Linked DNA regions of Homo sapiens. The protein of the gene in region 4 interacts with the protein of the main gene of each other region in a pairwise test. Each region holds a gene or a part of one and is shown on either strand. Other genes may lie near its edges. The genes, in order: BANP, OSGIN1, ATXN1 and MTERF4.

What was found.
Region 1: the proteins of MTERF4 (region 4) and BANP interact in binary tests that used the Homo sapiens proteins (3 or more experiments, as listed by UniProt).
Region 2: the proteins of MTERF4 (region 4) and OSGIN1 interact in binary tests that used the Homo sapiens proteins (3 or more experiments, as listed by UniProt).
Region 3: the proteins of MTERF4 (region 4) and ATXN1 interact in a two-hybrid assay, tested with the Homo sapiens proteins (one large-scale study listed by BioGRID and IntAct).

The regions. Positions count from the first base shown.
Region 1 is NC_000016.10:87,956,087-87,963,255, forward strand, and holds part of BANP (protein BANP), read left to right. Parts: intron 1-3,784; exon of another isoform or gene 3,785-3,907; intron 3,908-7,169. UniProt on the Homo sapiens protein: Controls V(D)J recombination during T-cell development by repressing T-cell receptor (TCR) beta enhancer function. Binds to scaffold/matrix attachment region beta (S/MARbeta), an ATC-rich DNA sequence located upstream of the TCR beta enhancer.
Region 2 is NC_000016.10:83,958,247-83,965,415, reverse strand, and holds part of OSGIN1 (oxidative stress-induced growth inhibitor 1), read right to left. Parts: intron 6,157-7,169; coding exon 6,020-6,156; intron 4,848-6,019; coding exon 4,656-4,847; intron 4,436-4,655; coding exon 4,344-4,435; intron 355-4,343; coding exon 1-354. UniProt on the Homo sapiens protein: Monooxygenase catalytic activity. Involved in regulation of cytokinesis; promotes RHOA activity, probably acting locally at the midbody in late cytokinesis.
Region 3 is NC_000006.12:16,749,567-16,756,735, forward strand, and holds part of ATXN1 (ataxin-1), read right to left. Parts: intron 4,526-7,169; exon of another isoform or gene 4,477-4,525; intron 3,782-4,476; 5' UTR 3,667-3,781; intron 1-3,666. UniProt on the Homo sapiens protein: Chromatin-binding factor that repress Notch signaling in the absence of Notch intracellular domain by acting as a CBF1 corepressor. Binds to the HEY promoter and might assist, along with NCOR2, RBPJ-mediated repression. Binds RNA in vitro.
Region 4 is NC_000002.12:241,091,557-241,099,442, forward strand, and holds the end of MTERF4 (transcription termination factor 4, mitochondrial), read right to left. Parts: coding exon 7,840-7,886; intron 5,872-7,839; coding exon 5,687-5,871; intron 4,883-5,686; coding exon 4,442-4,882; 3' UTR 4,015-4,441; downstream 1-4,014. UniProt on the Homo sapiens protein: Regulator of mitochondrial ribosome biogenesis and translation. Binds to mitochondrial ribosomal RNAs 16S, 12S and 7S and targets NSUN4 RNA methyltransferase to the mitochondrial large ribosomal subunit (39S).

The DNA.
Region 1 (7,169 bases), on a different chromosome or scaffold from region 4:
CTCCCCCGTCAGGATTGTTAGCCTTTGGGTTCCTCGTCTGCAGTGATACTGTACAAATCCCAAAAACTCCAGTTACACGATTAAGTGATTGACATGACATGGAGTCGCAAGGCTGACTTGAAAATGACTGTAACTCACAGCACCAGTTTAGCCACTGCAATCTAGAGAAACTAAACATTTCCTCATTTTGAAGGAAAGACTTCTTGGGGAAAGTCAATTTGAGGGTTTGAATGAGAATGAGATGAAAGCTTTAGAAGGTCCTCCCTGTGCCTGAGGTAGATAAACATCTGTATTTTCTCTTCACACGGGTGACGGTGGTGAAAGCATGACATCATCTGACTTGGTCAGCAGAAGTGCTCTGAACCATCCGGAACTTTGGGGGCCTGGGGGCCGTGGGGAGGAGTTTCAGGAAGTTGAAAACAGTATTGGGTGGAATCACACACTTGCAATTTGCTCTGAAAAAGCTACACTTGTTTTGTTCTCAGCTGCACCTGGGGCCCTTCAGCCCCTGCAGGAGAAGAATGGGGCGAGTGATTGGTACGTGGCCTTCCCAGCCTGCAGAGCCGCCTGCTTTGGTTGTAATCATAGGCAAGCTCAGCCTGCTTTGGTTGTAGTCGTAGACAAGCTCAGGTTTCCGCCTCTGCACGTCCCGGTGGGCTCGCCTGGGACTCCCTTTGTCTGTTGTACAAGACTCCACTCTGGCCCCCCCTTTGGAAGAGACGATGTCTCCATCCTCAGGAAGTAGAGAAACACTCTCCGCCACCCTCCATCCTGACCCCCGTGCAGAGGATGAAGTGCTGTCCCAGAAGCCCCCTCTCAGGGGTGCCGTAAGTCTCAGAGAGAGGAGCACCCCGGGGCCTCCGTGGCAGAATCCTGTGAGTGTCTTTGGTTAAAATGTGCAGGAAGTGTTAACTCCTAAGCTGCCAGCAGATGGTGTGCCGAGATACTGTGAAGTCACATGAACTTGATTCCTGTTGGAAAGAACCACTCTGCAATCCTTCGCGTCTACACTTCGTCAAGAACCGTCCAATTTGATTAAACATTCTGGATCGTCAGCGTTCACGGTGGAGCAGACTCCACGACTCGCTGCTCCCATGGGAGGTGTCTCTCTGGGGAAGGGGTCAGTGGTGGTGGAGGATGGCGCGGTGCTCCATTCGGAACCCACAGGTCGCCAGCTTACAGCGTGGGAGCTGTGGAAGGACACATGGAGCAGAGGCGGCTGAGGAGGTGAAAGGCTGAGAGGAGGCTGCAGTGAAACACCTGAGGAAGGCTGGGCAGAATGGATCGGGGGTGTGTATTGGCTGCAGTCACCTCCCCTCTGCTCGTCTGTGTCCACATTCTGTCGTGGTTGAGACCGGATCCTGTGTGGACCGGGTGGGCTGGTGTGGAGTCCTGTCAGGAGACCTGGGGCGGTTTTGAGGCAAGCTCACGGAGGCCTGCCGCAGGGCCCTGCGCTGACAAACCTTTCGCTAGTGACCAGTTACCTTCTGTGTCTGAGAGAAGGCCGTTGTGGCCTGTAGTGATTTTCCTTTTCCCTTGAGATGAAAAGTCATCAAATATCTGGAAGCAAAGCTTAATCTTTCTGAAAGTAGAAACGCGTTTGGATGGAGCCGGGAGGGAGAACTGGGTGCGCGCTTGGCATTTCCTTGCCGGTGTGAATGCGCTTCCCGTAAATATGGCAGAACGCCTTCACCTTTCACCAGATGACGCGGGGGGAATTGGGCCACGGTCCCTGCTGTCATCATGGCATGCTGCAAGCTCTGTGGGCGCTGGTGGCCAGGATGCGGACAACCCCTGCCGCTACGTGTCCTCAAGTGAGCTCAGCTCTTGTGTCGGTGGGAGCTGGCGGTGGGTCCCTGAGCAGAGTGCTGCCGCTGCCAGTCTGCGTTTTCTGCCGAAATGCGTCCCTGAGATTGAGAAAGTTCACACCCTAAGTGTTTTTAGAAGGCTGGGTGCCCTGTTTCCCAGCCAACAGTTGTGACTGTCAGTGGGCAAACACAGTTTGCAATAATTGGCCTGTTGTCTTACAATTTCTGGCTCTCCTCTTTGTGGTGTAGGTCATGTTAGGTGGTGGTCCTTGGTCGTTTGTGCCACGTTCCCTCATGTTCTTGAACTCTGAGTCCCTAGAAACTGACATTGGTCTTATTTTGAGTGCATTATTTTTCAAACTTTGGGTCTGAACCCACATCAATTGAGTGGGCCATGGCCAGTGTTAAGAATACTGGATAAAATGGAGCATGCCTTGGATAAAAGGAGCATGGTTCGGAGTGGCTAACGGGTAGGTATCGACTCAGGAAACTTGCAGTGATGAGTGTATGAACTTACCATCGTAGGCCCCAGTCGAGAGCGTGGAAACCACTCTTCTGTGATGTGTGTCTACTAGCGGGTGGTTATGCACAGCATTTGACTGAATTTGGGTAACTCTGGATGTAGTGTATAAAGTACTTTTTAAAAGGCCATCCACTGGGCCAGGCATGGTGGCCCAAAGCTCCCAGCGCTTTGGGAAGCGGAAACTGGAGGATCACTCGAGCCCGGGAATTGGAGGCTGCAGGGCTGCAGTGAGCCATGATTGCACCACTGCACTCCAGCCTGGGCGGCAGAGTGAGACCCTGTCTCAAGAAAAAACAAGCAAAAACTATTCCCGTTAAGCCGCTTGCTTAGGGGTGACTGTGATTGAACATGTGGCTTCTCATCCAAGTTGATTTTAATCTCTATGGAGATCAGACTAATAACCTCACAGTAGAAAATCCACCAGTGAGCTCAGCGGCACAAACTCACAGCCCAGCAGTGTTTGCAGAGGGGAAGGCCCAGAATGCGTGGAGGCTTCGGGATCCATCCTTTGCAGACATAGAGAATTCTCATGGGGGAGGGAGGACCTTGCGGCGCCTTGGCAGTGAGGGGAGCAACCTCAGCATGATGTTGGCACGTACACTGGGGACTGGGTGGTGACACCGTGCATGCCCACAGGGGTGGAGATCTTTGTGGAGTTCACTGATGGATCCCAGAGGCCCAGGACGGGATGGCACGCTTTTCTGTGAGGGTCAGAGTGTAAGTGTTTCTGGCCTTGTGGGGCGTGGGATGTCTCGTGCCACTGTGAAGCCGCTCGACTCTGCTGTTGGGCTGAGAAGCAGGCACCTTGTTTGTGGACGCTGACATTTGAGTTTTATGTAATTTTCTCATCATGAAATATTGTTCTTTTGTTATTTTTCTGTTTTAAAATGTAAAACCCATTCCTGGCTCACAGGCTGCATAGAAGCAGGTGGAGAGCTGGGCTGGGTTGTGGGCCCTCACGTGCCACCCCCTGACCTAGAGTGTGTTTGCCCTGGGAAGGAATAAGACGAGGTTGTGTAGAGAGGCAGTGGCTGGATGGGGAGAGGCCTGGGCCCTGCACAGAGGAGCTGAGGTGTGAGGCTGCTTGCGAGGGAGGCGGCTGACCAGGCTTGGTACTAGCAGGCTCTCCGGGGAGGAGGCCCCCTGGAGGAACAGCGCTGGCGTCAGCCACAGAAGGGCTTAGCGGCCATGGTCTTCCTGCTGCAGCCCGTGTGGTTTTGGGAGGGACACATGGAGCATTGGAGGACAAAGAGACGGCCAGATCGGAGTGTGTGTGGCAGAGGGGCGATGCCACCCTTCGGAGCGATGGGTGCCAGGGTACTCGGTGAGAGCCCAGGTCCCGGGTGAGGGGGTGGGCTGAGGGGGAGTCAGAGAGGGAGGAGCCTCGGGATGCGGAAGGGCGAGAGCAGGGCGATGAGGGTGGGGCCGCAGGGAGGTGGCCGGGACTCCTGGTAGTATTCTTGGGGAGAAAGATAACAGGGAAGTGAGGAGGGTTCAGCTGTGGAAGTGCTGGGATGGCTGATCCGAGTGACCATGGCCTAGACGGGGTTTAAACCCTGGACTGAAGAAAGTGCCGGTGAGAGGTCAAGGCAGGAGATGGAGACCTGGGGGTGACAGGTGTCCCCGGCACCTCCTACCCCCACCCTGGGAGACAGTCCCAAGGGGCACCTTCACTGGGGGCTGGCCCTCATGCACACCAGCCAAACCTCCTGCCCACCTTCTGGGGGCTTCTGGAGCAGAGCAGAGGCCCCGCGGACCGTGAGGATGGCCACAGGGAGGGGAGATGCGAAACACTGGCCGTGGCAGGTGCCCACGCAGTCAGGAGCTTGCTTGTGGGGCTCTTGTCTGACACCTGGGAGATGAATTTCAGTCTGATGGTGGATCTGGACCCAGATGGCTTGCTTGGGATTCAGCAGCTCTTGGGAAGAGCCACACTTGAGGATGGGCTTGGGTGAGGGTTTGGAACGTGCTTAAAGAGGTTGGCAGGCAAGGATTTGGTGGTAGCAGGTGGGGCACATCGTGTATTGGCAGGGTTTTGTTATTTTTATCCTAAAGACATACTTATTTGCAAACCTTCTATTTTGGAACATTTTGAGATGTATACATATGTGGCAGAGATAGCATAGGGAGTGCCCTTGTGCCTGGTACCCAGTTTCTCCCGTTGCTAACAAGACGCATGACAGCAGTTCATGGCACAGTGTTGGGTGTGCCCCGGCCAACTCAGCAGATGAGCTGTTTCACAAAATCAGTGATTCTGCTCTGATAAAATGGCAAGTCCACGGAAAGCACTTTCATTGTATTTTGAAGTTGGGTGGTTGTTGAGGGATTATTTGAGTTGTAGTTGAACTAGCTGCTCTTTTCATGGAACACTATAAAAAAATAATTTACAGATTACTGACATCTCTTACTAAATGAGTGAAGTTAGCCTCTCACCTCAAAGAAGTCAGCTAACAGTGTTTGTTGCCAGTGATAAAGTTTGAGCTGTCAAGTGAAGTTGGAGTTTTGGAAAGTTTGTCTTTGCCACCGTGAGCCCGAGAGCTCCCAATAAATCAGATGCCAGTGCTAATGCTGATGAACCGTATGCTTTTGATATTATAGACTGAACAACATTTGCAAGAGCTGCCTAACTCGGTGAAGCAACATTTTCCAGATGGTCGATGCGGGATCACGCCTGGGTAAAAGATCCATTTAGAGTACAAGTCAAGCCAATGGATCTTAAAGCCATAAAGTGCAGAAGCTCATGGATACAGTTCACATTCCATATTGCAAACAGCCTTTAAGGAAAAATAAAACACACTTGTTGCGTGTTGGTGTGGTGTCAAAGAGGAATCTCCATAATTATCTGAAGAGCCTATTAAGATACTTTTCCCTTGTCTAACTGCATCTCCTTGTAAGGCTGCATTTTATTTTATTTTTTCGTACTTTTTGTAGAGACAGGGTTTTGCTGTGTTGCCCGGGTTGGTCTCGAACTCCTGGACTCACAGAATCTGCACCCCCCCGGGCCTCCCAAAGTGCTGGGATTACGGGCGTGAGCCACTTCCCCTGGTGAGGCTGCCTTTTTGTCATATGCATCGACCAAAACAACATATCGGAGCAGACCACCGGTGGAAGCAGATAGGAAACTCTAGTTGTTTTCAATTAAGCCGGGCATTAGAAATTTGTAAAAATGTAAAACAATATTATCCCTCTTCTCATTAAGGTTTTGTTGTTCTTTGGAAGCTATAGTTATTTTTCATAAAACATGTTTTGTATGTACCATGAATGTTTGTCCCCTTTGAAACTCATGTTGAAAGCTGGTCCCCAGTGTCACAGTATTAAGAGGTGATTGGATCATGAGGGCTCAGCCCTCAGGAATGCGTTCAGTGCATTTATAGACTAATGGGCTCTCCTCGTGGTGGGTTAGTGATCATGACAGGGCGTCTGTTATAAAAGCCAGTTTGGGTGTCTCTCATATCCCCACCAGCAGGAAGGCACTCCTCAGATGGGACCCCTGGACCTTGGACTTCTCAGCCTCCTGAACTATAAGAAATGCATTTCTTAGGCTGGGCGCAGTGGCTCATTCCTGTAATCCCAGCACTTTGGGAGGATGAGGTGGGTGGATTACCTGAGATCTGGAGTTCAAGACCAGCCTGCCAACATGGTGAAACGCTGTCTCTACTAAAAATACAAAAAATTAGCCTGGTGCAGTGGCGTGCGCCTGTAATCCCAGCTACTCTGGAGGCTGAGGCAGGAGAATCACTTGAACCCGGGAGGTGGAGGTTGCAGTGAGCCGAGATCATGCCACTGCACTCCAGTCTGGGCTACAGAGCGAGACTTGGTCTCAAAAAAAAAAAAAAAAAGAAAGCACATTTTTTTCCTTTATGTAATAAATTACCAGTCTCAGATACTCAGTTATAGCAACAGAAAACGGAGTAAGACAGCGTTAATATGTAATGTGTTAATTTGTATGATTTTTACATGAATTAAAAAATATTCAAACATTTTTTGTTCTAATTTCAAATATGGTAAATATCGATAGGTAGAATCTGTACAGGTGCAAGCTCTTCAGGACCCTCAGTAGCTTTAGAATGGTGAAGAGGACCCTGAGGCCAGAAAGTCAGAATTACTGCCTTAGAGCCTAGACGCTTCTTAAGATGTGTCCCTGGAAATTATGCATGCTCAGGTGAAATTATGCATGCTAATATATTCAGGTTTGGAATTTGACCACTTACTTACAAATTTGAATTTTTCCTCCCTTTCCCCCGCAAGCACACATTTGGGGGGCCATCTTAAAGAAAAAGCAGTGTTGCCTGAATGACCCCAAGAGTAAGTGGGAGCCGTCGGGAGAAGTGTTCTTGCTTCTTTCTGATTTCCCGCCTATCTAGCATCCGATCAGTCATTTATAGTTTTCTTTCCAGTTATTTCCCATCTCATTCTTGTACGTTCCACTTCAGACTGATTTCGGGCAAAAGAAGTAGGCTGAGACTTCTTCACATGTCTCAGTTTAATAAAAGTTGACTTCTTCATGTCAGTTCATCCTGCCTTTCTCATTATTTCTTCCTTTCTAGACTTACATCCCGAGAGGATTTGACTAAATGGAATGATTAATTTCTTAGCAGTTTCCTCGTTTCGGGAGATTTAGCTTTTTACCAGGTACCACTTAGTCTCATCTTTAAGTGGGAGTTCCTGTCCTAATTTTTATGGCTCTTTGGACTTGCCATTCCAGCTCGGGTGGCCTGGGAGTCTCCACACAGAAGCCGTCTGAGGAGAAGGGCGCCAGGACGATCTGGGGATGGGCTGGGAGCTTGGTGGCCGTGGTCCCTTCTTGTCACTTTACTGTCTCAAGCGTCTTCTCTCCC
Region 2 (7,169 bases), on a different chromosome or scaffold from region 4:
ACCGCACCCACCCTTGTGGCGGCCTCCAGGGCAGACAGCTCATGGTGGATGAAGGGCAGGGCCTCCCCGGGGATGCCCAGCCGGGCCGGGCTGTCGAACGTGCCTGTGGCGAGGACCACGTTGCGGGCCCACAGCGAGAAGGGCTGCTGGGCCTGGTTCCTGGTCAGGAAGCCGCTCACCTGGAAGAGGGGGCTGGAGTCCTGGGCCCCACAGCTGCTGGGATCGGGGGTCCCCCACTCCACGGCTGTGACTACAGCACCGGACACAAAGTTATGCCCCAGACCCTTCTTGACCACGTAGTCCCTGTAGTAGTGGGCGATGTCCCCGGCAGTGGCCCGGCTGTTGCGAAGACCTCTGTTGGGGAGGATGCAGGACGCCAGAGTCAGACACTGTTAGGGGTTGGGGGGCTGGGTGGGACGGGAGATGTCCAGGGCAGTGTCAGGCCCTGGAGCTGGACTAGGCTGTAGCTGTAGGACTAGGCCAGGTAATTCAACCTCTCTAAGCCTCAGTCTCCTCTTCTGTAAAATGGAGCTAACAAGGGTGCCTCCCTCAGGAGAGGTGGTGTAGGGTGGTGTAGGATGCTCTAGGGTGGTGTAGGGTGGGGTTCAGAGGGCAGCCTCCAGAGCCCCGCTGCCTGGGCTCGAATCCTGACTCTGCCATCAGGGAGCTGTGTCTGTTTCCCCAGTTTGCAAAATGAGGAAGATGTTGGTGGCAGGACCTATTTCGTGAGGTCGTGGGGAGGATTTGGTGAGCTGACAAACACAAAGTGCTTAGGATGGAACCTGACTGGAAGTAAGTGCCATGTAAGGATAGGCCACCATGATTGTCACCTCAAATGATTAAATATGGTATGATTCCATTTTTACAGAGTTCAGAAACAGGCAGAACTCATCTATGGAGCTGGATGTCAAGAGAGGGGTTACCTCCGGGGATGGGGAATGGGATCCTGATCAGAAAGGGCATGGGGGCTTCTGGGAGGGGGCCTGCTTCTTCATTCTCTGTGCTTACCTTGAGAAATTTCATCAACCTGTACTCACAGGAGTTACGTACTTTTCTATATGTAGCCAATTTATTATTTTATTTTATTTTATTTTATTTTATTTTAATTTTTTGAGACAGAGTCTCACTCTGCTGCCCAGGCTGGAGTGCCGTGGTGTGATCTCAGCTCGCTGCAGCCCCTGCCTCCCGGGCTCAGGTGATTCTCATACCTCGGCCTCCTGAGCAGCTGGAACTACAGGCATGCAGCGCCATACCTGGCTAATTTTTGTATTTTTATTAGAGATGGGGTTTTGCCATGTTGGCCAGGATGGTTTCGAACTCTTGACCTCAAGTGATCCACCAGCCTCGGCCTCCCAAAGTGCTGGGATTACAGGCTTGCGCCACCGCACCCAGCCTATATGTAGTCAAAAAGTTGATTTAAAGTTGATTTAAAGACTCCCATGTGACGCACTCACCATCGTTCCCAGCCCACGCAGCAGCAGGAGGTATTCTATTATTGTTGTTGTTGTTTGGATTGTCACTCTTTCCAGGGGCAGTGACTGCAGGCCCATTCTTGTGGCGGTTGAATGACAGGCTTTGCATCATTCTAGCACCTTCCTGTATCTCACTGTGTGACCTTAGATGAGTTAATCTACCCAGCTTGTGGGCTCATGGTTCAAGATGAACTCCCATACGGGAGAATCCTGTGCCACCTGCCGTCCGGCTACATGTAGCAGGAGCTGACAATGGACCCCCAAGGCCGTGCCAGTCAACCCAGCGCAGCCCGTCTGCGACCCTGGAATTTATCTCTGTGGGCAGTCATTCTTTTCTCAGTTTTTGTAAAGATTGTGACACAGAACGGTCCCAAGAGCATGTTCTGTGCAGAGTTATTTATAATAATGACACAATGGAAAGAATGAATGCTCCAGGGCTGGCAGGGGCTGGGTAACCTTGGCAGTGCCATGAGGCAGGGGGTGTGTCTGCGGTGGTTTTGTGCTCTGACGTCTAAGCCCAAGGCCTGGCACATAATAAGCATTCGGTGAAGATTTGCTGGACTGGGGATGCTCACTCGCCTTTGGGAATATTGTGAGGCCATGTAAAAGGATGGTTTTGAACGCTGTGACTTCACCACATGAAACGCTTGGGATACAATGTGAAAATGCAAAATGAGCCTATAAAAGGCTGTGCTTACAAGCGAAATGTAAGTTTCTGGCTGCCTACTAACATGTAGCTACACAAACCTGGAAGTCTTCCTGCCAAACATGCAGAAGAGTCTTCGCATCAAAGAGATAGTGAGGCCTGGAGGGGGACGCCTGGAGTGCCTGCCGTTGGGGACACAGGCCTGGTCACAGCCCTGGGGGCGGAGGAAGCAGGGCTTCCCGAGAGGCAGACTGCACCCAGGTATCTGCGCTGGGGCAGCTTCTCATTGAGTGGATGCACCCCAGGAGGAGCAGGGACTAGAACTCCTTTATTCAGTGATTGAAACTGTGAGAGGCAAATCAATCTTGGGGCCCCCAAATCACTAAGTTAAAGGAAAAGTCAAGCAGGGAACTGCCTAGGGCAAAGCTGCCTCCCGTCCTACTCAAAGTCTTCCCTCTGCCCACTGAGATAAATGCACACCTGATTGCCTCCTTTGGAAAGGCTTATAAGAAACTCGAAAGAATGCAACCGTTTGTCTCTCACCTGTCTGAGACCTGGAAACACCCCTCCCTGCTGGAGTTGTCCCGCCTCTGGACGGAACCAATGTCCATCTTACATATAGTGATTGATGTCTCAAGTCTCCCTAACGTATACAGCCAGGCTGTGCCCCGACCACCATGTGTACATGTTATCAGGACCTCCTGAGGCTGTGTCATGGTTGTGCGTCTTCAACCTTGGCAATTAAACTTCCTAAATTAGCCTGGCGTGGTGGCTCACGCCTGTAATCCCAGCACTTTGGGAGGCCGAGGTGGGCGGATCACGAGATCAGGAGATCGAGACCATCCTGGCTAACACGGTGAAACCCCGTCTCTACTAAAAATACAAAAAATAATTAGCCGGGTGTGGTGGTGGGCACCTGTAGTCCCAGCTACTCGGGAGGCTGGGGCAGGAGAATGGCTTGAACCTGGGAGGCGGAGCTTGCAGTGAGCTGAGATCGCGCCACTGCACTCCAGCCTGGGCGACAGAGGGAGACTTCATTAAAAACAAACAACAAATAAACAAACAAAACTTCCTAAATTAACTGAGACCCATCTCAAATATTCAGGGTTCACAAACCTTTTCTCTAGGGTGGCCATGATGGGGCAGGAAGCCAGATGGGGAAAAAATACCCCAGGAGTGAAAGGGCGTGGAGAAGTGTGGGTTTGGGGTGAGCTGTTTTCCTTCTGCATTTCCAATAACCTGCATGACCTTAGGTGAGTTAATTTACCCAACTTGGGGGCTCATGGTTAAGGATGAAACTCACCTGTAGCAAAAGCATTAAAAAAAAAAAAAAGAAAAGAAAAAAGAAAGTCACCCTATTAGCTGACCCAGAAAGATTGTTCTAGGCCAGGCTCAGAATAGAGGAAAGGGCTGAAGGGAGACCACAAGGACTGGGGGACCTGTGCCAGAGGCACGGGGCAGGGCGTGGGGCTCAGGGGCCAGGTGTTACCCCCTCCTTAGAGGCTGGGGCACTATGGGGAGGCCCAGTTGGGGGCCATGTGACAGGGCGGTCTGCTGCTTGCACGGGACAGGGGGTCCTCGGGTGAGCCCAGCTCTGCTGCTCACCCCCACTCATGTGGGGTGGACAAGTCCTTTCCCTATCTGAGCCTCAGTTTCCCCCTCTGGAAGAAGAGGAAGACAGACCAGATGCACTCTGAAGCCCCTGTACCTCTGGCTCACGGGCTCACTGTGGGGGGCCTGTGAAATCCCCCAAATCACTAAGCTAAAGGGAAAAGTCAAGCTGAGAACTGCTGAGGGCCACCCTGCCTCCCATTCCATTCCAAGTCACCCCTCTGCTCCCTGAGATAGATGCGTATCTGATCGCCTCATTTGGAGAGGCTCATCAGAACCTCAAAAGAATGCAACTGTTTATCTCTCACCTACCTGCGACCTGGAAGCCCCCTCCCCACTTCCTGCCTTTGCTTCAAGCTGGCCCAGCTTTCCAGACCGAACCAATGTACTTCTTACAAATATTGATTGATGTCTCATGTCTCCCTAAAATGTATAAAACCAAGCTGTGCCGGATCACCTTGGGCACATGTCATTAGGACTTCCTGAGGCTGTCACGGGCGCGTCCTCAACCTTGGAAAAATAAACTTTCTAAATTAACTGAGACCTGTCTCAGATTTTCTGGGTTCACAGGCCCAACCTTCCGTGTCCCCCAAGGCGTTCCGGGGCGGCCTCACCTTCGCTTCTTCTGCATCCAGTCCTTGACCTCCAGGTCCGGGAGCCCCATCCACTGGCCTTGGCTCAGGATCACCATGGAGCCTTCGATGGACTGCAGGGAAAGGAACCCTTTGGTCCAGGCCTCTGCTCGCCTGAACCCATTTGGGGCTAGAGGGCATGGGAGGCCTTTGCTGGGGCTGGGTAGAGGGAGGAGGGAGAGGCAGGGTTGCGGGGTGGAGAATGAGGAAAGGGAGATGCCAGAGTCCCAGCCCCAAGTGGGGAGAACGAGGGAGAGAGCCCCCCACAAGCCATGCCCTCGCTGCCCCACTCACGTGCCAGGCTCCCCCGGGGAGGTTCCGGCCCAGAACCACGTGGGGGATGGCGTGCTCCTTCCGGTGCTTCCAGGTGAGGACCGACTTCATGTTTCCCCCAAAGTCTGTGTCTGGGCGTAGAAGGGCATCAAAGAGCAGGGCCACGGGGCTTTGGGATCGGCCTTCGAGGCCTTCGGACAGGTAGTCCAGGTCCTGGAGGGGGGCATAGGTCAGAGGGGCTGCTGGAGGAGGGCGGGGTCGTCTTCCCAGAGCCTGAGGCTGGGCAGGAACGTGGGGACTGGGGCCGGGCCATTTCCCTGGCACTGGAGGGTCTCAGAGAGATGCGCACCCTGGGGGTAGTTTGAAGCTCTCGTTTTGAGGTCTTTCTAGGAGGCCAAGGGCCCCAGAGTACAGACCAAATGCGCAAGCTTGGGTGAGACTGGAGCGATTGCCTGGTCCTACATCCCTACCCTAATATCAGTGTGGTCAGATCAGCTTGGGAGGTGCTGCCTCTTAACAGCAGATAACACAGACGGGCATATTAAAGGCTCTGACAAGTCCTGCAGCCATCATTTACCTGTTTAATTTTGCCAAACCCAGTGTGTCCCTGTTTTACTGGAGTGGGGACATTTTTCTCTCTATATTATACTGAGGAACTAGTATTCTATAGAGAGCACTTTGAAAAATGCTGATCTAGATCAAATGGTCAAGACCTATTTCCTCATCTCCAACTCAGGGGCGGGAAGGGAACAGGAGGATGTACACTGCCTGACGAGGGAGGTCGACAAGGGGAGGTCGTGGAGGAGCACAGTGGAAGACAAGGGGTACGGAGGGAGGATTTGCAAACCCTTGTGGGCAGGAGGTAGTGGGACTGAAATATCTGTGGTGGAGTTTCTCAACCTTGGCCGCACTGACATTTGAGCCAGATCATTCTTTGTAGCCAGAACAAAGTCATCCAAATGTCAGTGGGGCCAAGGTTGAGAAGCTCCACCACACATATTTCAGTCTCACCACCCTCGTTGTCCTGTGCAGTGCTGGATGTTTGCCAGCATCCCTGGCCTCCACCCTGCTAGATTTGGTAGTACCGTCACCCTGCCATGACAACCCAAATTGTCTCCAGACATTGCCAGGTGCCCCCCGAGGAGAAAAATCATCCCCTCCTTGAGAACAACCGGCCTAGGGCATAGTGAGCCCTAGATCGTGTGGCATTTGTGGGTCTCTGATTTCTCTTTCACGATCTCCGTGGCTGACTTTGTGGACTCTCGAATTCTTTGTTTAGTCTTGTTTCCAGCAAACACACACTTTTGTTTTTCCCTGGGAAAGCGGCGGTAGTTTTCCAAGGGCGGGTATGTACTACCCAGAGCTCTGGCCCCAGGCTGACCCACCTGGTCCAGGATGGAGACCCCCGGGGCCTCGGTGAGCTTCCTCTGCAGCAGGGGGTGTGGGTGGATGGCATCTGGCTTCGTGTAGGGTGTGTAGCCGGAGAGCAGGTAGGACAGGCAGATACCAGAGGGGCCGTTACCTGGGGAGAGAGGGTGGAGGTTAAAGGGGGTGGCCTTTTCAGGTGGGGGACACTACTGTGGAGGGCTTTGATCTAGATGCGGCGCATTCATTCATTTATCCTTCATTCATAAAAATAAATATTTATTAAGCCCTTAGCCTGTGCCAGACACTGTGCCTAATAATACTTTTAAAAAGAAGGAATGAACAACTGCTGAGAGCTTACTCTGTGCCAGGAATTGTACTGAGAGCTTTCACAACAGCCTCACAACAGCTTTAGCGAGGTAAGTGCCACTCTTTTCCTCCTTTTATACTTGAGGAAATGGGCACAGAGAGGTTAAGTTACTTGCCTGTGGTCACACGGCCGGAAGGTAGACGAGCCGGGATTAAAACCCAGACAGAGGGAATATCTGACGACGCGACTGAGATTCTGAGATTGCTAAGAACTAGGTCAGATGGATGAGTGAATGTAGCACAGATTGCTACGTGGCCTGGGGGCGAACTTGAGTGGTGGGTGCTTGTGGGCGCTCAGGGGTGCTGAGCCGCCTGTTGGGTCTGCTGCTTGCACGTCTGAAGAACTGCGCTGCCATCTGTGGCGCTTCCTGGGCGATTCACCAGGCACAGCCCTGTGATAGCGCTTCTCTTTTTATCTGTCCTTTCCCCTCTTCTTATCTCGTCTGATTCGGAATATTACTCATATGCAGGATACCAGGAAGAACCATATGAAATCACAGGCACCCATCTGCTTTTGCCTTACAGAAATGACCATCTCACGTGGCTTAATCGGACGCCTGCATACTGGGGGGTCATCTGTCCCCATTTGTGCAGACAGAGGACAGGAATCATAAGCCGCTACTGTGTGTCCTCTCATGTGGGCACCTAGCACAGTGCTGGGCACAGGGTAGTCATGGGATCAGTGTGGGCTCAGGACCAGGCCTCCCTGCGCCACGCCGGGTCGCCTCCAGCTGATGGGTGTGTTCTAGACCCCTGGGTTCTCGGAAGTGTGAAAGGGAATGATAGCTTATAAACTGCTAA
Region 3 (7,169 bases), on a different chromosome or scaffold from region 4:
AAGGTGCCTGAGCTGCAGAAGAGTCCTTATGGCCCACGCATACATCACCCAACTCCTCCAGCCACCCAGCCTCCTTCACCCCAGATCATGAAAAGAAGGCAGACGAAGGCCATGCCACATCAATGTTGAAGCTACTCTCCGCTGCCTCTTACCTTCTCTCTACACATTCTACACCAGCTGACGTCATCCCTGAATTCAGTCATCCCCCTCCTGGGTGTCAAACTTTTTGCCAGGCCCAAGAACCCAATTTCAAAGATCACTTTTATGCCAAGGACTCCTCCAAATTTATCTTCAGACTTGACCTCTCGGCAGTTTTATTCCCATACTCTCTACTGTCTGCTCGAATCCAGAAATTCAGATGTCCACCAGCACCTAGGCTTCAGTCAAAATGTCCTGGTCAGTTACATACCGTGCATTGGCTTGTTATGTCCCAGACACACACATGGCCTTCCTCATGCTCCATCCATCTCTTCCCACAGAAATGCAATCTAGTCAGCAGAGCTCAACTCAAGTGATCCCTCCTCCTCAAAGTCTTTCCTGATCACTCCTACTCAGCGTCACTCTTCTGAATTCCTTCACTGTTAGAACACTGTTAGAACCCCATTCTATTCGTATTCATTATTTCAGAGAGTTTCTTCTTTCCCCTGCCTGACCAGGAAGAAAATAACTGCCTTCCGGTAGCTCTTATTCACTTCCATTCCCACAGCACCATGCAGTAGTTTTAAAAAAATTCACAATGAATAAATGAATGAATCATTTCTTTACATAAATAGTGACTGTGAACAAGTTAGGTCATAACTTGCTATAGCTGTATCATATTTATAAAATAACTAGAACCAGAAAGAACTATAATGTAGGTTTAAGAAAAAAACTGAATGAATATAAAAGAGTACAACATGAATGATACTATTTTTCTGCCTACGTTGAGCCGTCAATCGTGAGGACTGTAATGAGGCCATTATTGATGCAAAATGTTTAGATAATGCTTATAAGCTTTCTTTAAATGCAATCATAGAAAATGTCAGCGCTTAAAATTCAAGGTGACTTTGCGCTACTTCGTCAGTATTTTAGTATTCATAAGACACTTAAACTTGCCTAACATATTATAAAAACCTAGGTCTCTTCTCAATAAGCTGCCCATATTGACCAAGAGATATGACTTTTTGCTGCCTGTTTTTTCACAATAAAATTCTTGAGATATTTCTGTTATCACAAATGACTCCCTTTCAACACCACAGGTTAAAAAAAATGCACGTGTACTCAACCCATTTGCAATTAAACTATTTCCCCAAAGATCTAAATGTGAGGATTTTCAGCCTAGCACATAACCGTTAAAATGAGTATCATCCCTAAGAGATAAAGTAGCAGTAAGACACTCTACCTTTTTCTTTTCTTTCCTCTCTTTTTTTTTTTTTTTTTTGAGATGGAGTCTCACTCTGTCGCCCAGGCTGGAGTGCAGTGGCGAGACCTGGGCTCACTGCAACCTCTGCCTCCAGGATTCAAGCGATTCTCCTGCCTCAGTGTCCCAAGTAGCTGGGATTACAGGAACCTGCCACAATGCCTGGCTAATTTTTATATTTTTAGTAGAGACAGGATTTCATCATGTTGGCCAGGCTGGTCTCAAACTCCTGACCTCAAGTGATTCACCCACCTCAGCCTCCCAAAGTGCTGGGATTAAAGGCATGAGCCACTGTGCCTGGCCCACCCTACCTTTTTCATTCAGCTGACACTTGTAGATCTTAAGAGGCTTACCTTTGCATGTAACTTTAGGTTACATTTCCACTTAAAGAACACCTCTCTAATCCACAGCCAATAAAATGTAAGGAATCCAGTTCCATATTTTACAAGAGTATCGTGTCTGTGATGACTCTTCCCTCCTCCACCTTGTCCCCCACTGGGACTTTTTTGGCTGTTTTTCCTGAGGCATAATACTTCAGTCACTCAGGTTTTTGTTTATTTTTACTCAGACCACAAATAACCACATTTATGCATGCAATTCATCAGTTCATTTTACAACAATCTAAAAAAAAAAAAACCACACATGCATCCCATCAGTCAGAGAGTTGTGATAAATTCAGAATTTAAAATTCAGCAAAAACAAATAAAAGGCTCCTTGGCTTTGCAGAGCCGTAGATGTCTACAGGGTGGGTCCAAAGACCAAGGTCCAGGTATATTTACATATTTCTAGTCATGTATGGTTCAGGAGCAACCATCATAAAACATGACCATAACAATCAACCTGTTGAGGGATAAGTTACTTGATAGCATCTGTTAAAAGATACAAACCATACACCAGGTACTATTCTACCCACAGTATATCTACTATTTTACTCCAGTCCATCCTCACAGCAGCCCTATAAGAAAGTTCTAATATTACCTCCATCTTATACATGAATAAACTGAGGCATTGAAAGGACATAGGACTACTCAAGGTCATAGTGGCAGCTCCAGATCTTAAGTCCAGATGGGTTGATTACGGAGCTCCATGCTCTTATCTAAGATGCCAGAGAATTTATATGTAACTTAAAAATTGGCTCTTACGGTAAAGAGGCAGCTCTTTCTTCAAAGAAATCTGGTCAATTATTGTTTAAATGAACCTGTTATAAAGCAAATATCCATCTACCTCTTGAAAAATGAGTTTTGAAAATTCAAATTTTCAAATGGGAGATTTGCTAAAAGTAGAATGAGCTTCTCACCAACTAAGTCTACAGAACATAACTTAGGAAGAGTTGCTGGAAGACCGGCCGACCCAGGGGTTCCCAAACCTGTGGAGCATCAGTGCCTAGACAGATCAATGATTCCAGCAGGAAACATTCTGATTCATCAAGTCTAGGGTGGAGCTCCAAATTCTATTTTTTTAAGCTCTCCAGGTGATTCTGTTGCCTAGCCAGGCTTGGGAACCTCTAATCTAGTCTGTCTTCACAGTTTCAAGCAGGTCCATTTCCAAGGCAAATAGAAATTGATCCCCTATTTTCTATTTCACAATCTCCCTTGGTTACATACACTCAAACCCTTGTGTTCCCAAGCCCTTACTGCCCCAAGTTCTAGCAAACCTCTTTTTCCTTCCTGATTTAATTTGAGGCAATATCCTCTGGCCCTTTCTTCAATAGAGAACCATGAGTCATCACCATTGCATACACCCTATGTCTGCATGACTCTCCAGGCCAGAAAAACTTACTGTACGTGGGAAAATCAGGAAGTTGTAAAATCCAAACAGACACAAAGAAATTCAAGATTCAACAAATACTGGTTCCCCTAAACAAATAGGTCTCTGTTTTGCTACGCACATATTATACTACAACAGTAATCTAAAATGCAAAAACTGTGACTTAAGATATCTGGTAGCATAGCATTCTTAATTGTATTAAGGAAAACTGACAATTAAAATGATGAGGTTCAAGCCCCAATTGGCAATTATCAATCATCGCAAAGTCAAATGAAAGTCTTCATGAACATATAGATTAAACCAAATAGATAGATACTTTAATCGAAGTTTTAAAAAACAATCTTGGCAATTTCTCAACTTCCCACACTATGCCCAAACAGAGTTTGCAAAGAAAATGATATTCAACAGCCAACAAAGTAAGGGAGCATGGCTAGGAGGCAATTTTCCAGGTCAGGACTTTATCCTCAGATGGAAAACAGAGAGCATCGCAAAACTCTCACCTGACATGTGATGCACTTCCCTGTAGTGGCAGTGGAGGAGGAGATTGCTGTACAAGGATGACAAACAAATCTGCAGCTTGAATGGACCACCCTGGTGACTTGATGCACGATGCTCCTGCAATGGTCGAGGGAGTGCAGGAGAGGAAATCCAAAATGAAAAACAGAATAGACTGCTTTAAAAAATAAGTCCACCTTAAGTGTCTATGCACCGAAATACAAATTTTAAGAACATCACATTCGGCATTCTGTTGTATGAGAATTACACAGATCCCAGCCAGCTCAAAAGGCAGGTCTGGTTTTACTCAACAAGGCTCAGAGGGAGGCCAACATACAAAAAGGTCATCCCTTCCATCAAATTAAGAGGATGGTCTCCCCATTTGAGCCAGCCGCTGTCATTCTTTTCTCCAATGATTCTAGCCAATCATCTGATAAACACATGCTGGTAACTACAAGGAGTATCAGGTGAAAATGGGCATGGATTGAATAGTAATTGAGCCAAAGCCTAATTTTAATGTGGCATATATTATCTATCAACATGCAACTTGAAACACAATGATGAAAGTGCACAGCTATTAGCATACCAGTCCAATGGAATAGAAGAAAGGAAAAAATGCAGAAAAAAAGTGTAAAGTGTGCATTTATATTCACTAAACTTTCCACTAAACTTTATTTAAATACTGAATGTACATCTCATTTTCATTTTGCCACAATTCCTTGCACATGGTTAAGTAAAAATTTTCCATTGTATGATGAATGAGTGAATGTGTGAATGGATGAATGAAAGAAAGAATGAATGAATCTTCCATATACCTTTCCATCAGGGAGCTTGGTGCTTGTAGTAGTTTTTGTGAGGTAAAACCTATGCATAGAAACGGAAGAAGTTGAGGACTCGATCTGCTAACGTATTTTTTTAGCCCTATCCATTAAAATTATATTCTTAAATACCGGTAATTACCAATTATCCACATTAAACAGAAAAAAAAATTTTTTTAAAATCAGTAGCAGGGTTACTATAAAATCATCCCCAAACTAGTGAATGCTGGACTGATTTTCAGTCTTTGATTACTGGAGCTGATCTGCACATTTGCTTAGGCTGATTTTAAACTTAGTTTGGGTTTCCTAAGCTCACGCCAGGTAACAGTAGGAAGAAGGAGGCCCAGGTTTATATTGGATGTCAGAAAGAAACTATTCTGGAGCTATGAATATGATCTCCAATGTGAATAATCCGTAAACAGGTAAGTGAGCCAATTATCCTTGGGTACATGGCAACACATCTCGGTACTCATGATTATTTTCATCCATACACACTCACTATTTTTAAGAGCACAGCCCAGCTGGAAAGGAAAATAACTTCCACTTCTTTCCAGCACTTTTCAAAGTAATGAACAGTAGCCAAAATGTTCTTACTTCTAACTAATCCATTCACCAAGCATTTATTTAAGCATTGATTGCCTGCCGAGGACTGATATGCAAAAGAAGGAATTCTTGTAGTCCTTGGTTTCCCCACATGTGATCTGTGCGTACAGAGAAGGAAGGTAAGCTGTTATACACTATAAGGTCTTTCAGATCTTTAGAAGGCACAGTCCCTCCACCAAGAAGCCTGTTGAGTTACAAATATAAATAATGGCCAAGTTAAGTAGAAGTTGACAAAATTCTATTTAATCTTAGTACTTCTTTAAGGATGAGGAAGCAGGGAGGGAGGATCATGATGTCATCTCAAATTAAGCATCAAAATACTTGATTCTCAAATGAGGTGCAGGTACCATAAATTTACAGACAGTGCTTTTTATGAGCTCACCAGTTGGGAGAGTGTTTGCCTATATGACAATGTGTGTGCACACAATCCTGTTTACATATCACCTGGCAGATAAGGTTTTATAGAGTCCAAGTTACAACCTCCTCCTAGTTTGCTGAAGTGCAGAGGAGGGTCAAACATGATGTAAATGCCATAGAAGATTACTTTACTCTTGCATGAGTATGCTTTCTTATTTCAAAAGTATTTGTGTTGCTGCACTAGTTAGGATAATACAGAGAGTTTACATAACTTGTATTCCATCAGAGGGAAGAAGGCAAGAATACAAGCAAGGCAGCACGTATTCACTGCAAAAACTTACAAAATAATATACCAGAAAATAATTTATAGGACATTTTATACAATAATATACACCAAAAATGGAATACTCAATATTTTTAAAACCCAGCAGAGCAACATAATACAATACTATTAATATTGGAAGATTAACAAGAAAGACGGCCTAAACAAAACTGAGGTAATGGTCAGTAAGTACCAGGAGATAATGTGAGAAAGGGGAACAAAATTAAGGGCACAAGAAAATAAAGTTTGCCATACACAGTGACAGAAAAATATATTTTCTTTGAACGTTAGAAGGATAGATGCTATAGGTTAGTAGCTACAATAACTGTCACGAAAAACTTCTGCTACCTAACTCATTCAAAACTTGTCATGTTAAAGGGCACCTAAGTGTAAAAAAAAAAAAAAAGAGTTCCTCTTAGCCCAAATCAAAACATCACAATCGGGGAAACCTCTGCCCTCTTGAGTCTCAAATTCTGAGTACACTACCATGAATTTTCTGGAAAGTAATTTTCAGGTAGGATACAATTTTTGCTTACATTGTGGCAATTATCATTACATTTTCATTACTCCACAAATGGGATGCATTAAAAGTTACAGAAAAATCAATGAAACATTTCTGCTAACATGAAATATGTCAAACAAAATATAATGCTTGTTGCTTTTTTGTCCATAATTGTTCTCTCTAAACGTGTTTTGGTACATTTGGGATGGTAGTAATGCGTAATACAAATATTTATAGTACATTAGCCTGAAAGTTCAAATTATGAGCGTTATAAAATATATTACTACACTAATAAAGACAAATATCCATAAATATAATTATAAAAGAATAAAATAAAAAACTTTCCATAAGATTTGTCTAAAACCATTCTTTTTATTACTTCTGTAATTTTAAGCATTTATATATTTTTAAAAATCTCAATGTAATTACCGTTCTTTCAGCCAACATTTAAAAAATTCTGTAAAACTGACACTGTATATCACTTCTTAAAAAAATTTTGAATGAGTACATTTATTTTATTAAACTAAATTACATGAAAATAAAATGTGAACATAATTGATGACTTAAAATTCTTATCTTAGAAAAGGAAGTTCTATATGTAAGGTCCTAAAACAGAAATTATTATTTCTATTACCATTTCTACAATGTATTGCTTTCAATGCTTTTATCAAAATAAGGAGGGCCTGCTTCTGATAACCTTGGAAGTATGACCAGAACTAAATCTGTTATTTGAAGCAATTAAGCTGCACAGATCTAAATCTCTCACAGAAACTAATCATTCGAACTATTGAATTACTCTGAAAATACAGAGCAAGGAAAGTCAAATAATCTATCTCTCCCCTAAAAATAATAGCCTGTCTTACTTCACTATTGTCACTTTACCGATGCAAGTATTTAAGCTGTTCA
Region 4 (7,886 bases):
AGAAGCAGGAAGCAGCCCATTTAAAGAGGAGTGGGAATGCCTGTCATTCTCCTCATGCTTCACTTTGTTTTTTCTTCAAAGGATTTAAGACGTTCTTGTTACACTCCACCAACCTCACGAGTTTCTAACACCCAGGAAGATGAGGTCTAAAAACTGGATGAAAAAGGACACCCTGAGAAAAGGTCCTAGCTGGAGTCAGTCCCCTCTGTGACCTCTCTCCTCAGGCCTCTAGAGGACAGATGGCCAGGCCTGTGCACACACCAGCCCACCCTGAGAGACCCCTCTGGGACCAACCACCTGTGAGTCCTGCGATGCGTTTAAGCAGCCTGTGCCCTCACCCAAGCTGCAGTTCCTGAAGGTGTAGTCTGTGTCTCTGCGGATGAGATGACAGCTCGCCATTCCCCGGAATCAGTGAGGCTGTCAGTCAGCCACGCTTCTGCAGTATGCAGAAACCTGTTCTTAGACTCCAAAGCCAGAGAAAGAATTCTCCCTTCGAGGCCCAACAAATTGAGAAGGAACTGTGATGGACCACTTCCAAAACAGAGACGGGGGCAGGGGCTGAAGGGCAGAGACCAGGTGATGTCAGAAGGAAAGCCGGGTTGCAGACACAGCCGCCCCTGCTCTGGTCCTCCAGCGTGTTTATGACGCTCGTGCAGGTCGACGAGCCATCCTATGGACTAGTTAACACTAAGGTGGAGTTCAGACTTTTTTAGACAACGGCGCGACTGGCAGCCTTTCTCTATCAAGGGTCAGACGGTAAACGTTTTCAGCTTTGCAGACCAGAGGTCCCTGTGGCTACAGTAGCGCAGACACAGCCACAGGCATGTCATTGAATGGCTGCGGCTATGTTCCAATAAAAACTTATTTACAATAACAGGTGGTGGCCAAATTGGCCCATGGGCCTTATTTGGTGAACCCTGTTCTATGAGATCACCTAGGCTTCAGCCTTAAACAGTGGAAGCCATCCCCTGAATGACAAGTCACAAGGGTATCAAAGAAAGACCCCTGAATTTTCATGGAAAAAGCTATTCAGACCCCTGCTTGGAAAGCTAAGGCACACTGCCACGAAGCAGCAAGGACGCCTTACAAGTCTCAGTGCAACAGAGATGGACACCTGGGCTGGGCTGGACAATGTTTAAGGTTCCTTTTAGTCCATGACTCAAGTGATACTGTTTTAGGCTATCAGGTAGTAAACACGATCTTAGACATCCCCATCTTTGTAAGCAGAACAGTACGGCACTTCACCACATCTGCTTCCCACCATGCTTCTAAGCAGCTGTCTTCCCCCTGCTAATGTTACAACCAAAGCAGCCACCCCACCTCCTCTCGTGTTGAGCCTCACGACCGCTGACCCAGCTGGAAAGCCAGCGCCCTGCCGCGTCACCCTGACTCTGCTCAGAGCCAGCATTCCAGCCACAAAGAGGGCCTCCTTCCTTTCCTCTTTCATAAAAATGTTTTTTGAAGAGTTAGAGTATATTTTAGGCTTTTTATCTTTATTAAAATTTCATGTGCATGTGTCTGTGTATTCTGCAATTTGTCATTTTCAGAAAGAAGGAACAGGCAATTCGCGAAGTTTCACCTGTACTCCCGAGCTGTTCCCCAGGCTCCAGACCCACTTGAGAGCAGAAGGTGGAGCTCAATGAAGGGTCTCGAGCTCAGCGAAGGGTCACTGGGTGAACTGAGAGAAACCACGTTCACAAACGCGTACTGCGGACTTCCTGCCGCCCTGGGACCTGTCACTGTTTGTCCATGTAAGCTACAGCATTACTAGCAGATGCTAAGATCGAGTGATATCACTGGAAAAGTAGGTGAATCCTACTAGGAAACTTTCTACTCCCTACTAGGACCTCAAGCCCCTCAGCCACACAGCAAATGCTAATATGCTCCAGTGTTAGCTTAGAAGCCTTGTGTCAACAAGAACTGGCTCCTGAGTCCCAAGCTTGGTGCCACACAGCAAATGCTAATATGCTCCAGTGTTAGCTTAGAAGCCTTGTGTCAACAAGAACTGGCTCCTGAGTCCCAAGCTTGGTGCCACACAGCAAATGCTAATATGCTCCAGTGTTAGCTTAGAAGCCTTGTGTCAACAAGAACTGGCTCCTGAGTCCCAAGTGCTGTCACAGGACTTGCCCATTGGGATGTTTTCCACATTAAATATCAAGTAAAAAGACTTCCTGGTGCTCAGGAATTACAGTTCGTTCTTGAAACATTCCAAAGAGGCCACCACAGCTTTTCCCATGTGGCTTCTTTTAAAAACTCAAATGGCTTCCTTGAAAATACTCAAAGTCCACCCAAGGAAATTAGTAATAATAGAATCAGAAAACTGTCAGGAGCATAAAGATTTCTGTATCAAAATGAAAGAAGCAATCCTGAGTTGCTGAATTACCCATCTGCTAATGAAACCGGGATGGACTGATCATCTAACCAAGTGCAGACTGAGGATTCTACTTAGTCCTCCGACTGGGTACAACAACAGCCTAGGTTCTAGGGAGGGTGGCAGTGACCGGGATGCCACAATGGAAGAGAAAATGAAAACACTGGCACAGTGAAATGTCTCATTTCCAAACAGTTTTGCCTATGGCCAAGCAAGGCAATAAAGACAAACTCTCCCTTTTCCCCATTGCGTGTGGGCTGCCAGGTACAAGTAAGGGAATCTTTGCTGTGCCCACTGTCCTCCAGTAGAGAACCCAACAGGCAAGGGCCCCACTCAGGTATCAGCTCACCTCCTGCACCTCCCCTTAGCAGGAACTCCTTCCACTGGCAAAGGACTGCCACTGCCATCTGACTCAACTGTGGCGATGTGGACGGAGTCACCGAGCTGCTTTTCTTTTGCAAAACAAAAGTCTTTTTCTTTGCAGTCACGCTGTAAGACGAGGCTGCTGGAGAAAACAAAAGCACCTAGATTTCAGTGCTGAATCCCCACAATTGCATGCAGCTCACACCTACCAGGGGTATTCCAGTGCATAGGGGAAAGGAACCCGGCTGAAAAACCAGCTCCTTATTTTTCTTTTAAATAAAATAATACGATCCTAAGTCCATTTACCATCTGAAGTTGTCACGAGTGAACAGTCACATTACTGTTGTGGACCAGGCCTTAGATGAGTTTCTCAGGCTCAGCACTGACATTCTGGGCCGGATCATCCTCTCTTGTGGGACCATCCTGTGCACTGCAGGATGTTTCACAGCACCCCTGGCCTCTACCCACTAGAATCCTACAATCTACCAGATCCTAGGATCTAGTTGATCCTAGAATGCTACCAAGGAGACTTGAATTTTGGTCCCATCATCAAAAATGCCTTCTGCATCAATCCTATGCCAGTTTCCCCTAAAAGAGGGCTAACTGGAATGTTCTAGGATGTACCAATCCTCCAGGACCCTCTTAGAGCTCATGCCATCAGAGACAGGCCTCTATCTCAGGGATCACCCCGGCTGACATCAAATTCCTCTTCTCTTTTCCCAACATTTCAAATTGTTCTTCGGACTCATTGAGTTCCCTAAGGTGACACGCCCCCCCCCCCCCCCACACCCACCTTGGGGGGTCACGGATTGCTCCCTGTGGCCCTGGCTTCAGCCCACCTGCTCCATGACCCTATGCTCTTCTCCTCTGGTTCTCGAAGCTGTCTGTAACCAGGGCAGGGGAGATAACTGTATGGGACCATTCCCTGGCCTCCACCTGCCCCAGCACTCTCCAGGCCAGCACAGTCTGGCACTACAGACTACAGGGCCGGAGACACCAGGCTTGGAAGTGACCACTGGCCAAGAGCTGACATAAAAGCCAACTTCCCCAAACAGGAAGGGCCTGTTCTTCACAAAGATAAAGAAAACTGCCAGCATTTTGCTGGCCTTAAGAAGCCATGCAAAATTAACCAGTACATCATGAATTAACTTCTTTTACTCTGCTGTGCACTGAATACCATTATGAAGCAATATACTTTTGGATTAAAAATAAGCATTTTTGTGGAAAATCTGCTACATGTTTTCATAAAATAAAGTGCTATGATGTACTAAAACCTCACATTGCCTTCTCGTAATTTTATTTTTATCACAAGAAGGAAATACATAGTGATTCCTGAACCGGAAGAATGAACCCCATCTTCCAACTGTCACGGAATTATCACCAACATATTCAAAAGAGAAAAAAATAAAACCAATTGTTGATATATTGAGTCCCCTTGATGTGAATAGCTCAACATAAGTATCTTATTCAGGATGGGACAGGGCCCTCCCCACAGACACGTGACAACAGATCAAACATGCATTTCCTGTTTCCTGTTTGGTTTGATCTGTCTGCCTCTCAGGTGACTTATAATTTTTTTCATCAAGAGACCAGTTTTAGAATAAAAAATAACTTGAGAAGATTCAAGTAAAGGACCCAAAAGCTTTAAGAGAATGAAAAGCTTCCTTGATATCTCTGGGCCCTTTCGCTCTAGTCCTTCCATCACAGCTATTCCTCCTCGTCGTCGTCCTCATCCTCATCATTGTCCTCCGCCTCGTCGTCGTCCTCATCATCGTCATCCTCATCATTGTCATCCTCATCATTGTCCTCCTCATCATCGTCATCCTCATCCTCATCCAGACTTGCCCTTTTGTCATCAGATGTGCTGCTCTCAGACTCCTCCTCCTCCCGAGCCAGGAGCTTCTTAAAAACTTGAAACTCCTCAACAGAAGTACAGGCTGTCCTGGCCAAAAACTCAGCTTCTGAAACTCTGAGAATGTCCTTGAGCAATGGGTTAGGGATCTGTGTCTGCCCCTTCTTATCAGGGGTTTGGTACCGTCCCAGGCGCTCCAGGTAAATGTGTCTCTGCTTAATCTTGGTTAGTGAATACTGCAAGTACTCACTCTTTACAATGTCTGGATGCTTAATTCCCATCCTGAAGTATGCATACTGGAAGACACAAACACACTTAGGAGTCCCAGATACAGAGTATTGAAACCTATCATTCTATAAACCATAAAAACTTAAGTTGTACAAAAGGATTCAAAAAGAATTGCCTAATTGACAACAGCGAATACCCAGTCTAGGATACTGACATTTGTGTGACAGCCAGCAGTTTCAAAACACTTTCAAATTCATCCTGAGAAACATGGAGCAGGAAATAAAGGGGTGGGAGGGAAAAGGGGCAGGAGGGAGAAGGGGCAGAAGGAAGAGGTGGTATTTTTCTTTAAATGGGGAAGGAAAAGGATGAATATGGAAAGAATAGGCAAAACATTCAGAAAACATCTAGAAATTCGACCTAAGTTGTCATAATTATTACCAAAAAATCGGACAACTGTTAAAATTACATTTTCAAAATCAACATGCAAAATAGATTCTAAGGACAGGAAGGTTTCAGCTATTTTAAAATTAGCTATTTCAGAGTCCCCACTTAGACTCTAAGAATAGGACTGGATCATTCATTATTAATGGCAGAAAAGTTGAAGAATAGGTTTGATCTGTAGTAAAGAAATTAAAGATTTCTCTTTGGCTGATGTATGCAGAGAATCTAGTCTTTCACTTCCTCCACTCAAATATGAGGTGTCCGAGGCTTCTTATCCATATAACTGACCTTCACTACATTTGAAAAACCTGAGAAACTTGCTGTTACTACACTAATCACGGTACCAGTCATTCTCACCTGAAACTACGCTAATCCCATTACCAGTCATTCTCACCTGAAACTACGCTAATCACGCTATCAGTCATTCTCACCTGAAACTTGTATTCCAGTTGACCCAGGTCCTCTCGAAGAACAGAGGGGCAACTGTGCAAAATCTTGGTGACTTGCTGTACCGTGAAAAGGCACTTCTCCTTGAGAAGCCTGACAGTGTCGTTAATGTCCTGCTGGCGCATGGTGAAAATTTCAGGGCAACAGTAAAGCACCCTCTTTAATTTCCCTGCAGAACATTCAAAAAAGGCAAGCATATAATTTCAGGATACTCCAGAAACTCAAGGAGCTAGCTGCACCCAATTTAAGTCCACATTTAAAAACAAACAAGGATCCTCTCCTTCCACAGAGCAAGTGGCAATTTCAGATCTATCTTCCCAGAAGCACCATGGAAATGATACATCTCCCCACTGACTTCCTGACACTCCTCAGACTCACCATCCTTCCCTCCCTATATTCCTGCTTTATTCTGGCCTCCCACCTGAAAGGTGCCAACTTTGTATTTTGGGTCTCCTCTTGCCCTCCTCACTTGGAAAAGAATTTCCCAGGCATTTACTGGAAAGATCAGAGAGTAATATGGGAGAGTAGTTTCCTCCATATTGCTGGTTTGGGTTGATGTTTCCTTCTATAATAAAATAGTCATTGAAGCATTCACAACTAACATTCTCAAGCTGAACTCAATGAAAAGGAGTTCCATCACCATCGTCATCATAACAGTAATAACAATAATAGTAATCATGAGGACACACAACACCAATGCTGACGTCCTGGTTACCAGGGTCACCATATATCTTCTCCAAGCCAGGGCACCTTGAGTGAAAGAGGCCCTATTAAAACCGCACTAACTGGTGTAAACTGGGACTATTCCAGGCCTTCCTAGGGATAGCTGAGCAAAATTCAGTAATGGGAAACTTAAAGTCAACTATTTAAACTGTTAATTAAAATTTTCCTAACATTTGAGTTAGTGATTATCTTAATATGTGAGGAATTTCAGTTTAGGTTTATCTTCATTTCTTAAGGCTGTGCTGAGTTTGCTAATTAATCACCACCACACATAATATATTTAGACTTTTAGATTACACTGTAAGAATCTGTTAAGAAAAATATACAAGGCTACCTTTTTCTTATCTTCTAGAGAAGGAGGCCTGTAGAGATGCTGTGAAATGGTGGATCCTAAACCTTCTACCACTGCCTCAAAAAACATCTTACCAGGAAGAGTCAATAATGCAAAGAAATAATAGTGGAACTCCTCTGGTCAAAGTGGGTAAGGGTCCTTGGAGACCCCCAACTCCTCCAGAAGGCCCTTAAAGAGATTCAAGGAACTTTGAGCATCCTTGAGATGTGAATATTGTTGGGGGCAGGAGTGGGGGATAAATAGAAGGGAAGGCCACTCCACGAGTATCCCAGGAACCTGGCCAGATCTCTCATGTTCCAGAGTAAATCTAAACACTCGACTAGAATCTAAGTCTTTACAAGAGATGTTGGTTTGACATCACATCACAGAGACAGAGCACTAAGACCATTTCATGTTGATTTAAACATCAAATGCTATATGTACACATATTTATCAACATCACATTATCAGCATCAACCCACTGAACACATACCATATGCCCACCACTGCACTAGGTGCTGAAGATCCCACGGTGAACAAGGCAGACAAGAGTCTCTGCCCTGGCACTCAATTTTTTCTTCTAGTCTTAACTCCTCCTCCTTCCCTCTCAAAATGTATTCTGCACAGAAAGCCACTCCTATTCCTCACCTCCAAGCCAAATTATACAGTCCTCTCCAGGAACACTGACATACTCAGAAACCTCCCCTAATCCATCTCACCTTAGGCTGCTCTTTCCCCACCTCTGGCTCCTGTCACACTATATAAAATCTTTTTTTTTTTTTTTGAGACAGCCTTGCTGTCACCCAGGCTGGAGTGCAGTGGCGCCATCTCAGCTCACTGCAACCTCCGCCTCCTGGGTTCAAGCGATTTTCATGCCTCAGCCTCCCAAGTAGCTGGAATTACAGGTGCGTGCCACCAAGCCCAGCTAATTTTTCTATTTTTAGTTGAGTCAGGGTTTCACCATGTTGGCCAGGCTGATCTTGAACCCCTGACCTCAAGTGATCTGCCTGCCTCGGCCTCCCAAAGATCTGGGATTACAGGCATGAGCCACCGCACCCAGCCAAAATCTGCAACTTCTTGTACCTTCTCCAAGCCCAAGCTTTTGCAGGTAACTGGAGCGCTTCCTCATT